2 separate regions of the Homo sapiens genome follow, and region 2 is linked to region 1. The links come from fine-mapping of genetic effects on gene expression. A gene starts in region 1. The other region holds a variant in brackets. All regions are shown on one strand. Distances are from middle to middle. Region 1 holds the start of NAALADL1 (N-acetylated alpha-linked acidic dipeptidase like 1). Region 2 holds the start of SNX15 (sorting nexin 15).

Region 1 (8,632 bases):
CACCTGCGCCTGTTACGCAGGTGTCCTATGCATGGCTGCCTTGGCAGTCTGGTGGGGCTTACCCAGAGGGGATCTGCTTCCCAGGGGTCTCGTGCCCACCTTTTACATCTCTTATTGCTCTGAACACCCCTTGGACAGAAGACAGCTGGAGCAGGAGTGTTGAGTTGCTGTGCTGGCGTAGGTCAGCTTTGCCTCCAATCTACAAATACTTGTTGAGTGCCTCATAGGTGCCGGGCACTGCTCTGGACTCTGGGGCTTCGGCAGTGAATAAAACAAAGATGTCTGCCCTGGTAGAACTTACGCTCTGGGAGGGGCAGCAAGAAATAATGAACAAGTAACATGAGGATAGATGCAATGGAGAAAAATGAAGCCACAGAGGAAGAGGAAGCCTGAGGGAGGGGGAGGAATGCAATTTTATTTTATTTATGTATTTTTAAACATGGATTCTCACTATGTTGCCCAGGCTGGTCTTGAACTTCTGGACTCAAGCGATCTTCCTGCCTCAGCCTCCCAAAGTGTTGGGATTATAGGTATGAGCCACTGCACCCAGCCAGGAATGCAATTTCAGATAGAGTAGTCAGGGAAGAGCTCATTGAGAAGTGACATTTGAGCAAAGACACAAAGGACCTGAGGGAAGGAGCCCTGTGGACAGCTGGGGAGCAGGGTTCTAGGGAGCGGGAGCTGCCAACACAAAGGCACTGAGTCAGGAGTGTGCCTGGTAGGCTCAGGGGACAGTAGCAGGCCAGAGCTACAGGAGCCGTGAGTGAGGAGGACAGGGAGGGGACCGGGTCTGAGACATGAAGGGCTCTATGGCCACTGTCATGACTGTTACTCTGAGTGTAAAGGGAGACTTGGAGGGCTGTGAGCACGGTCGTGACATGGCGGACCTGGGTTTCACAAAGATGAGTCTGACTGCTATGTAGAGAAAAAAACTAGAGGGGACAAGAATACAATCAGAGAGGCCAGTTAAGAGGCCACTGCAGGCTGGGCACGGTGGCTCTCGCCTGTAATCCCAGCACTTTGGGAGGCCAAGGCGGGCGGATCACCTGAGGTTGGGAGTTTGAGACCAGCCTGACCAACATGGAGAAACCCTATCTTTACTAAAAACACAAAATTAGCTGGGCATGGTGGCGCATGCCTGTGATCCCGGCTACTCAGGAGGCTGAGGCAGGAGAATCACTTGAACCTGGGAGGCAGAGGTTGCGGTGAGCCGAGATCGCGCCATTGCACTCCAGCCTGGGCAACAAAAGCGAAACTCTGTCTCAAAAAAAAAAAAAAAAAAAAAAATTAGGCAGCTGGAAATACAAGAGTTCGGGGATGGGTTAGATTGGAGACATATACTTGCGGGTTTCTGGTCTATATTTAGTCATTTGTATTGGTTCTCCATTTTGCTGTGGTTTTTTTTGTTTTTTTTTTTTTTTTTTCTTGAGACGGAGTCTCACTCTGTCACCCAGGCTGGAGTGCAGTGGCGCTATCTCGGCTCACTGCAAGCTCTGCCTCCCAGGTTCACGCCATTCTCCTGCCTCAGCCTCCAGAGTAGCTGGGACTACAGGTGCCCGCCACCACGCCCGGCTAATTTTTTTGTATTTTGAGTAGAGACGGGCTTTCACCATGTTAGCCAGGATGGTCTTGATCTCCTCACCTCATGATCCGCACGTCTCCGCCTCCCAAAGTGCTGGGATTATAGGCGTGAGCCACCGCGCCTGGCCTATTTTGCTCGGTTATAATCACTCCAAAACCTAGTAGCCCAAAACCATAAACATGTATTATCTCACACAGTGTCCACAGGTTAAGAATCTGAAAGTGGCTTGGTTGGGTGGTACTGGCTGAGGGACTCTCGTGAGGCTGCAGTCAAGATTCCAGCAGGGGCCGCTGTATTCTGACGGCTTGGCTGGTGCTGGAGGACCCATTTCCAAGTTGGTTTATTCACAGGGCTGGCAAGTTAGTGCTGAATGTTGGCAGGAGGCTTTAGCGCCTCACCATGAGGCCTGTCCACAGGGCTGCTTGAGTGTCTTCACAACATGGTGTCCGGGAGGCCACGTGACTCTGCAGGCACATCCAGGGGCAAGGGTGCAGGCGCAGAAGAAGCAGAAAGTGAGTCAGAAGTAACCAGAATGGTGTTTTCCCAGTGGATGTGACCAAAGCAGAGAGGATTGGGGGTTAAGAGGGCTTCCAGGGCCTCAAACTGGGCAAGGTGAGTACACGTGGGAGGTGAAGGAGGGTGGGACGGAGGCAAGTGTGTGGGGCAGGTGGAGAGTGGGGAGGGAGCCAGCAGCAGTGCATTGCTGGTCCTGGAGGATTGAAGACCCCTTGGACCCAGAGCCATTGGGAGAATAAGGCAGGAAAATGAAAGGTGTTCATGTGCTCTAACTACCGTAAGTTATTTCTAGGAACTCCCACAATCCAGAATGTTCTGGGAGGGGCCATACCACCCACACAGCAAAGATGAAGGAAAGAAAATTGACTAAGTTAACGTCTGGTGCCTACAGCCATGTAGACACCAGTGGATTCCAACAGCCTGAGTGGATCTCTTGGGTGTCACACACACAGCTGTTTACACACTCTCCAACACAAACCACAGTCCCAGGTGTTATCACTCAGATGTCACACACTTTTGTCCAGGCGTCCTGTTTGTGACTTCACATGATTGAGGGGTTAAATCCTTCCAGGAGTGGGTGGGGTAGGACCATGGGGTTGCTGCCTCAGTCCCTCAACTTATCAGCTGACCTTGGCATCCCACTCCCCACCTGGTGGTGACTGTCCTGTGTCCTCATAAGGAAGGTGTATGCTCCCTGCACCGATGGGCTTCTGATAAGATCCAAGGTCATATTCTGGGCGTCGATAATCACGTTGCCAAGAACTGTGGCTTCCTGGTGCACCTCCCTGAAGTCACTGATCACATGACATCCCTTCCCAGCCACCCCTAGTCCTCCCATGCTGAACCTCCTCACCAGCAGCACAAGAGATGGTGGTGCCAGCAAAATGGGGTTGTGAGCAGGAAGGAGGCTGCTCTGAGAGGGGTCTGTGAAATCACACACACACACATGCACGTGCACACACACACACACACACACACACGCTCTGCCCTGATCCAGCCCCCAAGCTCTGCAGGCATCTTTGAGCCCATCCATGGGCTGCAACCTGCGAGGCAGAGTCAAGGCAGGATAGGCCATGGGAGGGTGGGAGAAGTCCCAGCTCAAGTCCCTAGGGACCCCCCCAGCCCCTCCTGGCTCTCCGTGAGGTCTGGAAGAGGCTCAGTATGTGTATGGCATACTTGGGGTCTCACTTCCCTCTCAGCCCTTGCAAATGCTGGAACACCTTTTCAGCCTTGGAGGACCCCCTCAGATGTTCCCTCCTAGTCAGAACTCCTCACTCTTTCACTGGGAGCATGGTGATCCTCCCTCTACAGGGCACTTACCACATGGCTGAACCTAAAGCCTGTCTGCCTCGCCTGCTGGATTTTGCTTCCCCACAGCCTTGCATGGCTCTAGTATAGCACAGAATGAACAGTGCTTGCATGTATAAAGGAAGGAATGAATAAGTGAATGGAGGGATGGGTGGATGGATAAATAGGAGGGTGGATGACGGAGTCCAGGCAGAGCCAGGGGATAGAAGAGGAAGTCACCTCGCCAGGGAGGCATGGGCTTCCCCTGCTGCCTCCTCTGGGACAGCCTCCCTTCCCAGGACTCCCATTCCTCGTATCGCTGGGCTCCCTTCAGGATAGACACAGAGAGTTCTTCTGGGTCCTCCTTCTTCCTTTAGCTCTAGGCCTTACATTTTCCAGAGTCAGATGAGGGATGAGTAGTTAAAATTGATGAGCTCCCACTACATGTCAGACACTGCACTAGCTATTTCTACAGATGCCATATTGTTTAATGAAAATGACACCATAGCCGGCACGGTGGCTCACTCCTGTCATCCCAGCACTTTGGGAGGCTGAGGCGGGTGATCACCTGAGATCAGGAGTTTGAGACCAGCCTGGCCAACATGGTGAAACCCCATCTCTACTAAAAATACAAAAATTAGCTGGACATGGTGGTGCACACCCGTAATCCCAGCTACTCGGGAGGCCGATGCAGGAGAATCACTTGAGCCCGGGAGGTGGAGGTTGCAGTGAGCCGAGATCACACCACTGGACTCCAGCCTGGGTGTCAGTGGAAGACACAGTCTAGAAAAAAAAAAAAGAAAACAGGTGTAGAGAAGCTGAGTGGATTGCCCAAGGTCACACAGCTTACGTCCAGCAAGAAGGGGGATCTCAACTCAAAATCTGCTCAGGCAGGTAGGGCTGGGTATGCTGTAGATCGGCTGCCTTGGAGGGAGGCAGAGGCAGTGAGGGTGGGCAGTGGGCACGGCCCTGCTGTGAACACAGGAGCTCTGAGTTCCAGCCCTGGCTTGGCCTCTGTTTTCCTGGGACACCCTGGATGAGCCCCTTCCCTCTCGGCTTCAGTGTCCCTGGGTGACCTTGCTGCCCTTGGAGAGCCATTCCAGGCAAATGGTGCAGGATGTGGTGGATGTGGATGGCTCCTGGCTCTCACTGCGGGATGTTCCCTCACTCTCCCTGCCAGCTGGGGGTCAAAGGGCAGTGCCACCCATGGGGTAATGTTTAACCAGGCACAACACCCCCTCTATAGGGAATAACCTATAGACCAGTCCTACCCCAGCTGGCCAAGAGTCCGCAGGATGCAGTGGACGAAGGTGTTGGGGCTGGGGCTGGGGGCTGCTGCCCTCTTGGGGCTGGGGATCATCCTCGGCCACTTTGCCATCCCCAAAAAAGCCAACTCACTGGCCCCCCAGGACCTGGACCTGGAGATCCTGGAGACCGTCATGGGGCAGCTGGATGCCCACAGGATCCGGGAGAACCTCAGGTGAGAAGTGGGGCCATCTGCTCCTCCGTTTGCCAGAGGCCCCCTCCCTGATGCTGGCCCTGCCCCTCCCTCTGCCCACCCTGCAGAGAACTCTCCAGGGAGCCACACCTGGCCTCCAGCCCTCGGGATGAGGACCTGGTGCAGCTGCTGCTGCAGCGCTGGAAGGACCCAGAGTCAGGCCTGGACTCGGCCGAGGCCTCCACGTACGAAGTGCTGCTGTCCTTCCCTAGCCAGGAGCAGCCCAACGTCGTGGACATCGGTGAGGTCCTGCCCAGTCTTGGGAATGCCCGGGGGTGGGGAGCTGCTGGGCCCAGCCATGATACTGCCACCCCTCCAACAGTGGGCCCCACTGGGGGCATCATCCACTCCTGCCACCGGACTGAGGAGAACGTGACCGGGGAGCAAGGGGGGCCAGATGTGGTACAACCCTATGCTGCCTATGCTCCTTCTGGAACCCCACAGGTGGGCCCAGAACCCCCCCTACTGCTCTGGCCCAGCTCCCTTGGTTCCACCCAGGGTTCTCCCCACCCTGACCCAGGGAACGTGCCTCAACTGGGGCACAGCGCGCCCTCCGGAATTTACTCACCGGGACACTCCATCGCTGCTCCTTTCCTCCATCAGTCATTCAACAAACACTAGTGGCTCTGCTCAAGGCCAGGTCTGTTACAGGGCACCCAGACATGGAGGAAATGAGGGGTGACTGTTCTTGGGGAGCTTACAAGCTCTGGGTGAGGTGGGGGAACAGAATCTAAATTCTCCCTCCTGCCATGCAAACTTCCACCCCCCTTCCCCACCCACACTTCGCTGGGCCCAGCTCTAAGGATCACCCCCTCTTGGGACTAGGGCCTCCTCGTCTATGCCAACCGGGGCGCGGAAGAAGACTTTAAGGAGCTACAGACTCAGGGCATCAAACTTGAAGGCACCATTGCCCTGACTCGATATGGGGGTGTAGGGCGTGGGGCCAAGGTGAGTGGCAGTCCCCCAGTGCAGGAGGCCTCGGTGAGGAAGGGGCTGGGCAGTGGACTGGAGGAAGTGAGGGGAAGGGGAAGGAGAAGAGGCAGTGTTGAGTGGGGAACCAAGCCCCAGGGTGGGGCAGGAAAGGCAAGGTGTTTTCGGGTTGTCCCACCAATGGGCTGTGTGGCCTCGGATGCCTCCCTGACCCTCTCTGAGCTGTAGGAAATAAAGGGGTTGAGTACAATTTTCAGGTTTGGTATTCCAGAAGTCTAAGTCCTCCTGTGAAATAGTTTTGAATATTCAACTTAAGTCCCTCCTGTTGGCCCTCTCCCTGCCATTTCTTTTCCATCAAAAATTCTGACTAGGGGCCGGGCGCTGTGGCTCACGCCTATAATCCCAGCACTTTGGGAGGCCGAAGTGGGCAGATCACCTGAGGTCAGGAGATCAAGGCCAGCCTGGCCAACATGGTGAAACTCCATCTCTACTCAAAATACAAAATTAGCCACACATGGTGGTGCATGCCTGTAATCCCAGCTACTGGGGAGGCTCAGGCAGATGAACTGCTTGAACCTGGGAGGCAGAGATGGTAGTGAGCTGAGATTGCACCACTGCACTCTCCAGCCTGGGAGACATCGAGACTCTGATTTAAAAAAAAAAAAAAAAAAAAAAAGGCTGGGCATGGGCGTGGTGGCTCACGCTTGTAATCCTAGCACTTTGCGGGGCCAAGGCAGGCGGATTGCCTGAGTTCAGGAGTTCAAGACCAGCCTGGGCAACACGGTGAAACCCCATCTCTACTAAAATACAAAAAAACAAAAATTAGCTGGGTGTGGCAGCGTGCACCTGTAGTCCTAGCTACTCAGGAGGCTGAGGCAGGAGAATTGCTTGAACCCAGGAGGTGGAGGTTGCAGTGAGCCAAGATTGTGCCACTGCACTCCAGCCTGGGTGACAGAGCGAGACTCCATCTCTAAAAACAAAAAACAAACAAACAAACAAAATTAATATAAAAAGAGTAGAATGAGAGAGGGGAAGGGATAGTTGGTATTTAATGGGGACCGAGTTTCGGATTTGTCAGATGAAGAGTTCTAGAGATGAATGGTGGTGATGTTGCACAATATGGATGTACTGAATGCCACTGAACTGCATACTCCACATGCTAAGTTTATGTTATGTGTATTTTACCACAATTTTTTTAAAAGTGGGCTGGACGCGGTGGCTCATGCCTGTAATCCCAGCACTTTCGGAGGCCAAGGCAGGTGGATTACCTGAGGTCAGGAGTTCGAGACCAGCCTGGCCAACATGGTGAAACCCTGTCTCTACTAAAAATACAAAAAATAGCCGCTCATGGTGGCAGGCACCTGTAATCCCAGCTACTCAGAGGTTGAGGCAGCAGAATCACTTGAACCCAGGAGGCAGAGGTTGCAGTGAGCCGAGATCATGCCATTGCACTCCAGCCTGGGGGACAAGAGCAAGACCTCATCTCAAAAAAAAAAAAAAAAAGGTGTCCATAATAAGAGCTGGGAAAAGAGAAAGAAAGAAGGAAGGTGGAGAGAAAGGAAGGAAGAAAAGAAAGGGAAAAAAGGAAAAGAAAAAGAAAGGGGAACAAGCAGTGTAGAAATACACAGATTATTAATTAACCATCACCACTACCCATTTCCAGAACCTTTTCATCATTTCAAACAGAAACTTTATTTAACAATAACTCCCCAGGTCCCTGCCCCAGCCCCTATTCTATTTTCTGTAACCTCAATTCTACTTTCTGTCTCTATGAATTTGCCTATTCTAGGTACCTCGCATAAGTGAAAGTATAAGATATTTGTCTTTTTATGTCTGGCTTATTTCACTTAACATAACATCTTCAAGGCTCATTGATGTATCAGAACTTTCTTTCTTTTTAGGCTGAATAATATTCCATTGTTTTTTGTTTGTTTGTTTGTTGGGGTTTTTTTGAGACAGAGTCTTGCTCTGTCACCTAGGCTGGAGTGCAGTGGCATGATCTCAGCTCACTGCAACCTCCACCTCCCAGGTTCAGGCGATTCTCGTGCCTCAGCCTCCCAAATAGCTGGGACTACAGGTGTGTACCACCACACCTGGCTAATTTCTGTATTTTTAGTAGAGACAAGGTTTCACCATGTTGGCCAGGCTGGTCTTGACCTCAGGTGATCTACCTGCTGGTCTTGACCTCAGGTGATCCCACCTCAGGTGATCTGCCTGCCTCAGCCTCCCAAAGTGTTGGGATTACAGGCGTGAGCCACCCCACCCGGCCTCCATTGTATGTTACAGCCCACATTTGGTTTAGCCATTCATCTGTTGATGGACACTTGGGCTATTTCCTCCTTTTGGCCGTTGAGGATAATGCTGCTGTGGACATGAGTACACAACTGTGTTATTTTATGCAGCTTCATGGTATTCCACTGTAGGATGTCCCTGTTATTCAACCAGACTCCACTGATAGGCACGGGCTTGGCTGTGCCGAACTGGCCTTTACTGTTGCAAGAGGCACTGCCATAAATGACTTGTGCAAACGTCATCTTGCCCATGGAAGATTGGTCTATCCTGGCTTCCACAGTCGAGGAAGGAGGAAGAGGAATAGGACATATCTGGTCCCGGTCCCTCCCTTACACACAGCCTCCTCTGCCCACTGCAGGCTGTGAACGCTGCCAAGCACGGGGTAGCTGGGGTGCTGGTGTACACAGACCCTGCCGACATCAACGATGGGCTGAGCTCACCCGACGAAACCTTTCCCAACTCCTGGTACCTGCCCCCCTCAGGAGTGGAGCGAGGCTCCTACTACGAGTATTTTGGGGACCCTCTGA
Region 2 (8,632 bases), 31 kb after region 1:
CGGGGCAGTAGCCTTTGGCCATTGGCCTCTGGCATCAAGGCACCCTGGCTTTAAGCCTTCGCGTGTAATTTTAGCAACTTTTCCTACTATGTACCTCAGTTTCTCCATCTATCAAATAGGAGGACCCCTAAAGGCCCATTTGGACTGCTCCAACCTCAGCCCAACTTTTTTTTTTTTGAGATGGAGTCTCGCTCTGTCGCCCAGGCTGGAGTGCAGTGGTACACTCTCGGCTCACTGCCACCTCTGCCTTCAGGGTTCAAGCGATTTTCCTACCTCAGCCTCCCAAGAAGCTACAGACATGCACCACCACGCTTGCTAATGTTTGTATTTTTAGTAGAGATGGGGTTTCCCCATGTTGGCCAAGCTGGTCTGGAACTCATGACCTCAAGTGATCCGCCCGCCTCAGCCTCCCAAAGTGCTGGGATTACAGGCGTGAGCACCCGGCCATCAGCCCAATTTTTATCCCAGTTCCTTGAACAGACCAAGTCCCTCCATCTACTTCTGAAACCAAAGAACCCCAAGCCTCCAAAGAAGGGAGGTTCTGCCTCAGGAACCTCCTTCCCTGCGGGAGAAGATCCTGCGCTTCAGCGCCCTGGACACAGAAGAAACCATCACTGGAGTTGAAGTCCCTGGAAGGGCAGACTTGGGTCTGAGGTGAAAACAAGATTCAGTTTTCATCGTTATGTTCATAATAATTTTAAAATAATGTCCTATGGTTTGGGGTACTTGACAGTTTAATAACATCTCCTATGCCAGGCACGGTGGCTCACACCTGTAATGCCAGCACTTTAGGGGGCCCAGGTGGGCAGAGCACTTAAGTCCAGGAGTTTGAGGCCAGCCTGGGCAACATAGTGACACCCAGTATCTGCAAAAAATACAAAAAATTAGCTGGGTGTGGTGGCGTGACACACCTGTAGTCCCAGCTACTTAGAAGGCTGAGGTGGGAGGATCACTTGAGCATGTTAAGCAGAGGTTGCAGTGAGCTGAGATTGCACCACTGCACTCCAGCCTGGAGAGAGTGAGACCCTGTCTCTCACACACTAAATAAATAAATAAAAACATCTATTTCTTATCCTAGATCCCACTGAGGCAGACATAATTGACATGCCCACTTAAGAGATGAGGAAATGGAGGCTCTGAGAGGTGTGGCCATAGTAGACCACACACTAAGTAAGAAAGATGGCTGGGACTAAAACCCTGGACTTTGCTTTTGACAACAGAGACTTGCCTAAAATATTCTGGTAAAAGAAACTATTTAAAAGCCATTGAGTGGCCAGGTGTGGTGTCTCATGCCTGTAATCCCAGCACTTTGGGAGGCCGAGGTGGGAGAATCACTTGAGGTCAGGAGTTCGAGACCAGCCTGGCCAACCAACATGGTGAAATCCTGTCTCTACTAAAAATACAAAAATTAGCCAGGCGTGGTGGCAAGTGCCTGTAGTCCCAGCTACTCAGGAGGCTGAGGCAGGAGAATCACTTGAACCCAGGAGGCAGAGGTTGCAGTGAGCTGAGATCATGCCACTGCACTCCAGCCTGGCAACACAGTGAGACTCCATCTCAAAAAAAAAAAAAAAATTATAGGCCAGGTACGGTGGGTCATGGTGGCCTGTAATCCTAACACTTTGGAAGGCCAAAATGGGAGGATTGCTTGAGGCCAGGAGTTTGAGACCAGCCTGGGCAACATGGCAAAACTCTGTCTCTACAAAAAAAAAAATTTTTTTTTGAGATGGAGTCTCACTCTGTCACCAGGCTGGAGTGCAGTGGTGTGATCTCGGCTCACTGCAACCTCTGCCTCCCGGGTTCAAGCAATTCTCCTGCCTCAGCCTCCCGAGTAGCTGGGACTACAGGTGAGCGCCACCATGCCCAGCTACGTTTTGTACTTTTAGTAGAGACGGGGTTTCACCATGTTGGCCAGAATGGTCTCGATCTCTTGACCTCATGATCCACCCGCCTTGGCCTCCCAAAGTGCTGGGATTACAGGCGTGCGCCACCACGCCCAGCCTCTACAAAAAATTTAAAAATTGAGCTAGGCGTAGTGGTACATGCTTGTAGTCCCAGCTACTCAGGAGGCTGAGGCAAGAGGATGGATTGAATGCAGGAACTTGAGGCTGCAGTAAGACGTGAATCATGCCACTGCACACCAGCGTGGGTGACAGAGCAAGACCCCGTCGCAAATAAAATAAAATAAAATAAAAATATAGGCCAGGCGCGGTGGTTCACACCTGTAATTCCAGCACTTGGGAAGGCCGAGGTGGGAGGATAACTTGAGGTCAGGAGTTCGAGACCAGCCTGGCCAACACAGTGAAATCCCGTCTCTACTAAAAACACAAAAAGTAGCCGGGTGTGGTGGCACACGCCTATAATCCCAGCTACTCAGGAGGCTGAAGCAGGAGAACTGCATGAACCCAGGAGGTGGAGGCTACAGTGAGCTGAGATCACACCACTGTACTCCAGCCTGGGCGACAGAGCAAGACTCCGTCTCAAAAAATATATACATACATATATTTATATATTATGTGCTTTATATTTTATATTTATTATATATAATACATTGTATTATATAATATGTATAAAAATATATCAAAGTAATGCATGTTGCTTGGTTTAAAAAGCCAATGGGAGGCCGGGTGTGGTGGCTCACACCTGTAATCCCAGCACTTTGGGAGGCCAAGGCGGGTGGATCATGAGGTCAAGAGATCGAGACCATTCTGGCCAACATGGTGAAACCCCATCTCTGCCAAAAAATACGAATATTAGCTGGGCATGGTGACGCGTGCCTGTAGTCCCAGCTACCTGGGAGGTTGAGGTGGGAGAATCTGAACCCGGGCGACGGAAGTTTGCAGTGAGCTGAGATCGAGTCACTTCACTCCAGTCTGGGCGACAGTGAGACTCTGTCTCAAAAACAAAACAAAACAACGACACAAAAAAGCCACTGGGAAGACTTATTTTTATTTATTTATTTATTTATTTATTTATTTATATTTTTGAGACGGAGTCTCGCTCTGTCTCCCAGGCTGGAGTGCAGTGGCACAATCTCGGCTCACTGCAAGCTCCACCTCCCGGGTTCACTCCATTCTTCTACCTCAGCCTCCCGAGTACCTGGGACTACAGGTGCACGCTGCCACGCCCGTAAGTTTTTGTATTTTTAGTAGAGATGGGGTTTCACCATGGTAGCCAGGATGGTCTCGATCTCCTGACCTCGTGATCCGCCCGCCTCGGCCTCCCAAAGTGCTGGGATTACAGGCGTGAGCCACCGCGCCCGGCCACCACTGGGAAGACTTATAATAAAAGGTTACAGTTCCTTGCCACATCCTCCCCACCCCAGCCCCACCTCCAGTCTATCTTCCCAGGGACAATCTATTTATTTGCTTTTTTTTTTTTTTTTTTTAAAGTTGTGTGTGTGTCTGTATTTTAATATTGATCCGGGGTCTCACTATGTTGCCCAGGCTCGTCTTGAGCTCCTGAGCTCAAGCAATCTGCTGCCTCAGCCTCCCAAAGTGCTGGGATTTACAGGCATGAGCCACTGAGCCCGGCCTTATTTGCATTATTTTTAGGCATGGAAAAGACGTAAACGGTTTGGGGAAAGCATATTTTAAATAGCTAAGATTCTGCACTTAGATCACTTTGGAAGTGTCCTTATGTGCCTGCTTTGCTTTTAGAGTTAACTAATGCACCAGCTTAATAGTCGCCTGGTTGAAAATTCTAAAAGTACAAAAAATTTACAGTAAAAAGTCTTCCCCTAACTCCTGTCCCCAGTGACACAGTTCCTCTCCCTGGGGACCTTCCTTGTTACCAGTTCTTGTTATCATTCTACAGGTGTCCTGTTTTACTGTTTCATTTTTAATTATTGTCATGGTTTCCTCCATGTCTCTCTATAAATTGTGCTTATGATGTTGTTATCGCTTCATATATCAACTCTAGCCTATCTATCTTCCTGCTGTGACCTTGATATGGCGACTTACTCCTTAAGTCCTTCTGAACTGCATCAATTTTTTTCAACCACTGATCAGTATTATTTTTTGAAAAATTAAAAATGGTTAAACTCGTTAAAGGGAGTTTATGTAACATCAAACAAACCAATAAACAAAACTTACTCTACGAGAATGGAGTACTAATATTTGGATTAAACCAGAGTTTTCATGTTAATTTAGAGAAATTCACAGCCTGATGCCCAGACACTACACTCCGGGCGTGGGCATACACGCCTTGCCTGTCCGGGAACGGCCGTCAACGCCCTTTTAAAAAAGACAGCGCCCACCCAGGACCCCGCCCCCTGGTGGTTAAAGATGTAAAC[TAA/A]GCCTCGTACTGCAACCTCCCCTTAAAGGGGAAACCCATTTCTGTCGTCTAAAAAGGGAGCAGTGGCTGCACCGCCTTTCCTTAAGGTAAAACTCGGCGCCCCTCTAGTTAAAAGGGTAAAGTACGCGCTGGGCCCCACCTCACCTGCGCGGTTACTTTGTACTCGGTGTAGCCCTTGGGGTGAGTCCTGGGGTCCGACACTGTGTAGTGCCGCAGGAAGTCATCCTTCGCCTGGCGGGACATGAAACCGAGCTGGAGCGGAGCGGAGCGCCGGCCTCCACCTCCTCGCCGTCCCCACCCCTCCGGCCCAGCCTCCGCCCGCCGCCGCCTCGCCAGGCCTGCGCTCTTCTTCCTCTGGCCTAGGGATTTTGTCGCAAGTGACAGCGCTGTTCCGATCCCGGGTGCGCGGCCAAGGGAGCGTCTGAAAAGTTCCTTCTCTGTGGTGAAGCGTAAACCCAGGTCACTGGAAAGATTGGTTGGGAAGGCTGGGATCACTCGTCTCATTTCTGCCGGGTGATCAAGCCCACCCTATCCAAGCGTAAACCCTTGTCACAGACTTCCAAACGACTTCTCCCCGCTTCCTAAATCCCTGCTTTCGTTCATCCACCCAACTCTTATTGTGTCCAGTATGTACAGGACAACGTCAAATTATTTCCCTGTCTCCCTCCACAGGATTCCCTAATTCATGTTTTCTGGAAAGTAGAGGAAGCAAAGAAGGTTGGAGAAGCAGGATGGTGTCATGGGCTCTGAGTCACGACTCTTACTAGCTGTAGGAGTTTCCCTTAACTACTCAGCCTCAGTTTCTCATCTGTAGAATGGAGATGTTTATAATAGAATCTGTGTAGGGCAGTGGAGCTTTTTTGCGATGGGTTTGCTGCCAGAACACAGGTGTCGTGAAAACCACCGTTAAATCAAAGCCAAAATGGGGGTTTGGCGCGGTGGTTCACGCCTGTAATCCCAGCATTTTGGGCAGTGGAGGCAGGTGGATCACTTGAGGTCAGGAGTTCAAGACCAGCCTGGCCAACATGGTGAAACCCCGTTTCTACTAAAAATACAAAAATTAGCTGGGCGTGGTGGCGCACGCCTGTAATTCCAGCTACTCCAGGGGCTGAGCTGGCTGATGGCTTCAGCCCAGGAGGTTGAGGCTGCAGTGAGCTGCAATCACACCACTGCACTCCAGCCTGGGCAACAGAGTGAGACTCCATCTCAAAAGAAAGGGAGCAGGGGAGGGAAAAGACTCAGCTCAACATCATCATCTGATTTGGGCAAGTCCAGCACTACTGGCCATCTGATCTACAAGTGTGGTGGGATCCACAAAAGAACCATCGACAATTTTGAGGAAGCTGCTGAGATGGGAAAGGGCTCCTTCAAGCATACCTGGGTCTTGGGTAAGCTGAAAGTTGAACGTGAGAGTGGTATCACCACTGATACCTCCCTGCTGGCAATTGAGACCAGCAAGTACTATGTGACCATCCTCAATGGCCCAGGATGCAGAGACTTTATCAAAAACCTGACCTCAGGCTAATTGTGCTGTCCTGATTGTTGCTGCTGGTGTTGATGAATTTGAAGCTGGTAATTCCAAGAATGGGCAGACGCGTGAGCACACCCTTCTGTCTTACACGCTGGGTGTGAAACTAATTGTTGGTGTTAACAAAATGGATCCCAATGAGCCACCCTAAAGAGGAGAGATGGGGGCCGGGCGTGGTGGCTCACGCCTGTAATCCCAGCAGTTTGGGAGGCAGAGGTGGGTGGATTAGGAAGTCAGGAGTTCAAGACCAGCCTGACCAAGATGGTGAAACCCCGTCTCTACTAAAAATACAAAAATTAGCTGGGCATGGTGGCGGGTGCCTGTAATCCCAGCTACTTGGGAGGCTGAGGCAGAGAATTGCCTGAAACCAGGAGGCAGAGGTTGCAGTGAGCTGAGATCGTGCCACTGCACTCCAGCCTGGGAGACAGAGGACAGAGTGAGACTCCGTCTCAAAAAAAAAAAAAAAAAAAAAAGGAGAGATGGGAGAAATCATTAAGGAAATCAGCACCTACATTAAGAAATTGGCTACAACTCTGACATAGTAGTATTTGTGCCAATATCTGGTTGGAGTGGTCACAACAGGCGGGAGCCAAGAGCTCACATGCCTTGGCTCAAGGGATGGAAAGTCACCTGTAAAGATGGCGATGCTGTGGAACCACGCTGCTCGGAAGCTCTAGATCACATCCTACCACCAACTCACAAGCTCTTGGTTCTGCCCCTCCAGACGTCCACAAAATTGGTGGTATTGGTACTGTCAGTGTGGGCCACGTGGAGACTGGTGTTCCCAAACCTGGCATGGGTTTTGAGACCTTTGCTCCAGTCAGTGTTAGAATTGAAGCAAAAATCTGTTGAAATGCAGCATGAAGTTGGTAGGCTTACATACAACACATAGTATTTACTGCAGAGGAAGCATTGTGAATAGCCACTCTTGTTCCTGGAATTCAGGTGTACAGGTGCGGTGCCTTGGTCTTCAGAAAGAAGCAAAGCCTGGCATGGGGCTCATGCCTGTAATCCCAGCACTTTGGGAAGCCAAGGCGGGAGGATCACTTGAGGCCAGGAGTTCAAGACCAGCCTGGGCAACAGGCTGCCTCTGATTTCATGAGAAATTTAAAAATTAGCTGGGGGCCAGGTGCAGTGGCTCATGCCTGTAATCCCAGCACTTTGGGAGGCCAAGTCGGGCGGATTACTTGATATCAGGAGTTCAAGACCAGCCTGGCCAACATGATGAAACCCCATCTCTACTAAAAATACAAAAATTAGCCAGGTGTGGTGTCGGGTGCCTATAATCCCAGCTACTCGGGAGAATGGGGCAGGAGAGTTGCTTGAACCCGGCAGGCAGAGATTGCACTTAACCTTCTGGAGGAAATGTCATCCAGGAGCCAGTCAATGCCAGGCAGTGGGTTCTCCCCAGCAGTGGGGCTGCAGCCCTTGACGTACCAGTGGTGGCTGCAGAGAGTCCAGATGCAGGGCTTGGGAGAACAAAGGTGCTGGTGGTGGCCAGTGACCGCAGACCCTTCCCTCCCTGCTCAAGGGTCAGCCCATCCAGGAAGCCTCCCCGGCCCCTGGGAGAGCTTATCTGTTCCCCGGGGCACCTGAGCTCTCTGTACAGTGCCACGCCAGTGCCACCCCTTAGTGTCCCATATAAGAGAGGATCCTGATAGGCGGCACTGCATAGGGCTGTCCCTAACTGTATTGCTGAATGGAATGGGTAGTACTTAGAACAGTGTAGGGAAAAGAGAGATCAGACTGTTACTGTATCTATGTAGAAAGGGAAGATAGAAGAAATTTCATCTTGACCTGTACCCTGAACAATTGCTTTGCCCTGAGATGCTGTTAATCTGTAACTTTGCCCCAGCCACTTTGCCCCAACCCCTTTGCCCCAACCTTGAGCTCACAAAAACATGTGTTGTATGGAATGAAGGTGTTTTTTTTTTTTTTTTTTGAGATGGAGTCTCGCTCTGTCGCCCAGGCTGGAGTGCAGTGGCGCCATCTCGGCTCACTGCAAGCTCCGCCTCCTGGGTTCATGCCATTCTCCTGCCTCAGCCTCCCGAGTAGCTGGGACTATAGGCGCCCACCACCACACCTGGCTAATTTTTTGTATTTTTAGTAGAGACGGGGTTTCACCGTGTTAGCCAGGATGGTCTCAATCTCCTGACCTCATGATTCGCCTGCCTCGGCCTCCCAAAGTGCTGAGATTACAGGCGTGAGCCACCACGCCCGGCCTTGGAATCAAGGTTTAAGGTCTAGGGCTGTGCAGGACGTGCCTTGTTAACAAAATGTTTACAGGCAGTATGCTTGGTAAAAGTCATCGCCATTCTCTAGTCTCAATAAACCAGGGGCACAATGCACTGTGGAAAGCTGCAGGGACCTCTGTCCTGGAAAGCCGGATATTGTCCAAGGTTTCTCCCCATGTGAGAGTCTGAAATATGGCCTCGTGGGATGAGAAAGACCTGACCGTCCCCCAGCCCGATACCCATAAAGGGTCTGTGCTGACGTGGGTTAGTAAAAGAGGAAAGCCTCTTGCACTTGAGATAGAGGAAGGCCACTATCTCCTGCCTGCACCTGGGAACTGAATGTCTCGGTATAAAACCAGATTGTACATTTGTTCAATTCTGAGATAGGAGAAAAACCGCCCTATGGTGGGAGGCAAGACATGTTGGCAGCAATGCTGCCTTGTTATTCTTTATTCCACTGAGATGTTTGGGCAGAGAGAAACATAAATCTGGCCTACGTGCACATCCAGGCATAGTACCTCCCCTTGAACTTAATTATGACACAGATTCTTTTGCTCACGTTTTTTTGCTGACCTTC

Evidence for each region. PIP is the estimated chance that this variant, and not a neighbour inherited with it, causes the effect.
Region 2: its variant is fine-mapped to the expression of NAALADL1 in whole blood (TOPMed, PIP above 0.99).

The regions. Positions count from the first base shown.
Region 1 is chr11:65,054,570-65,063,201 of GRCh38, reverse strand. It overlaps NAALADL1 (N-acetylated alpha-linked acidic dipeptidase like 1), which reads left to right and starts at 4,649. Exons shown (of 18, transcript NM_005468.3): 1 at 4,649-4,865; 2 at 4,952-5,124; 3 at 5,206-5,327; 4 at 5,709-5,831; 5 at 8,464-8,632. The coding sequence starts at 4,681. It also overlaps a transcript of CDCA5 not described here.
Region 2 is chr11:65,023,442-65,032,073 of GRCh38, reverse strand. It overlaps SNX15 (sorting nexin 15), which reads right to left and starts at 4,635. Exons shown (of 8, transcript NM_013306.5): 1 at 4,438-4,635. The coding sequence starts at 4,536. ARL2-SNX15 (ARL2-SNX15 readthrough (NMD candidate)) reads right to left here. Exons shown (of 11, transcript NR_037650.2): 4 at 4,438-4,756. It also overlaps the pseudogene EEF1A1P18. RefSeq lists a silencer at 4,504-4,673 and an enhancer at 4,523-4,817. The variant TAA/A (reference allele first, on the strand shown) is at 4,292.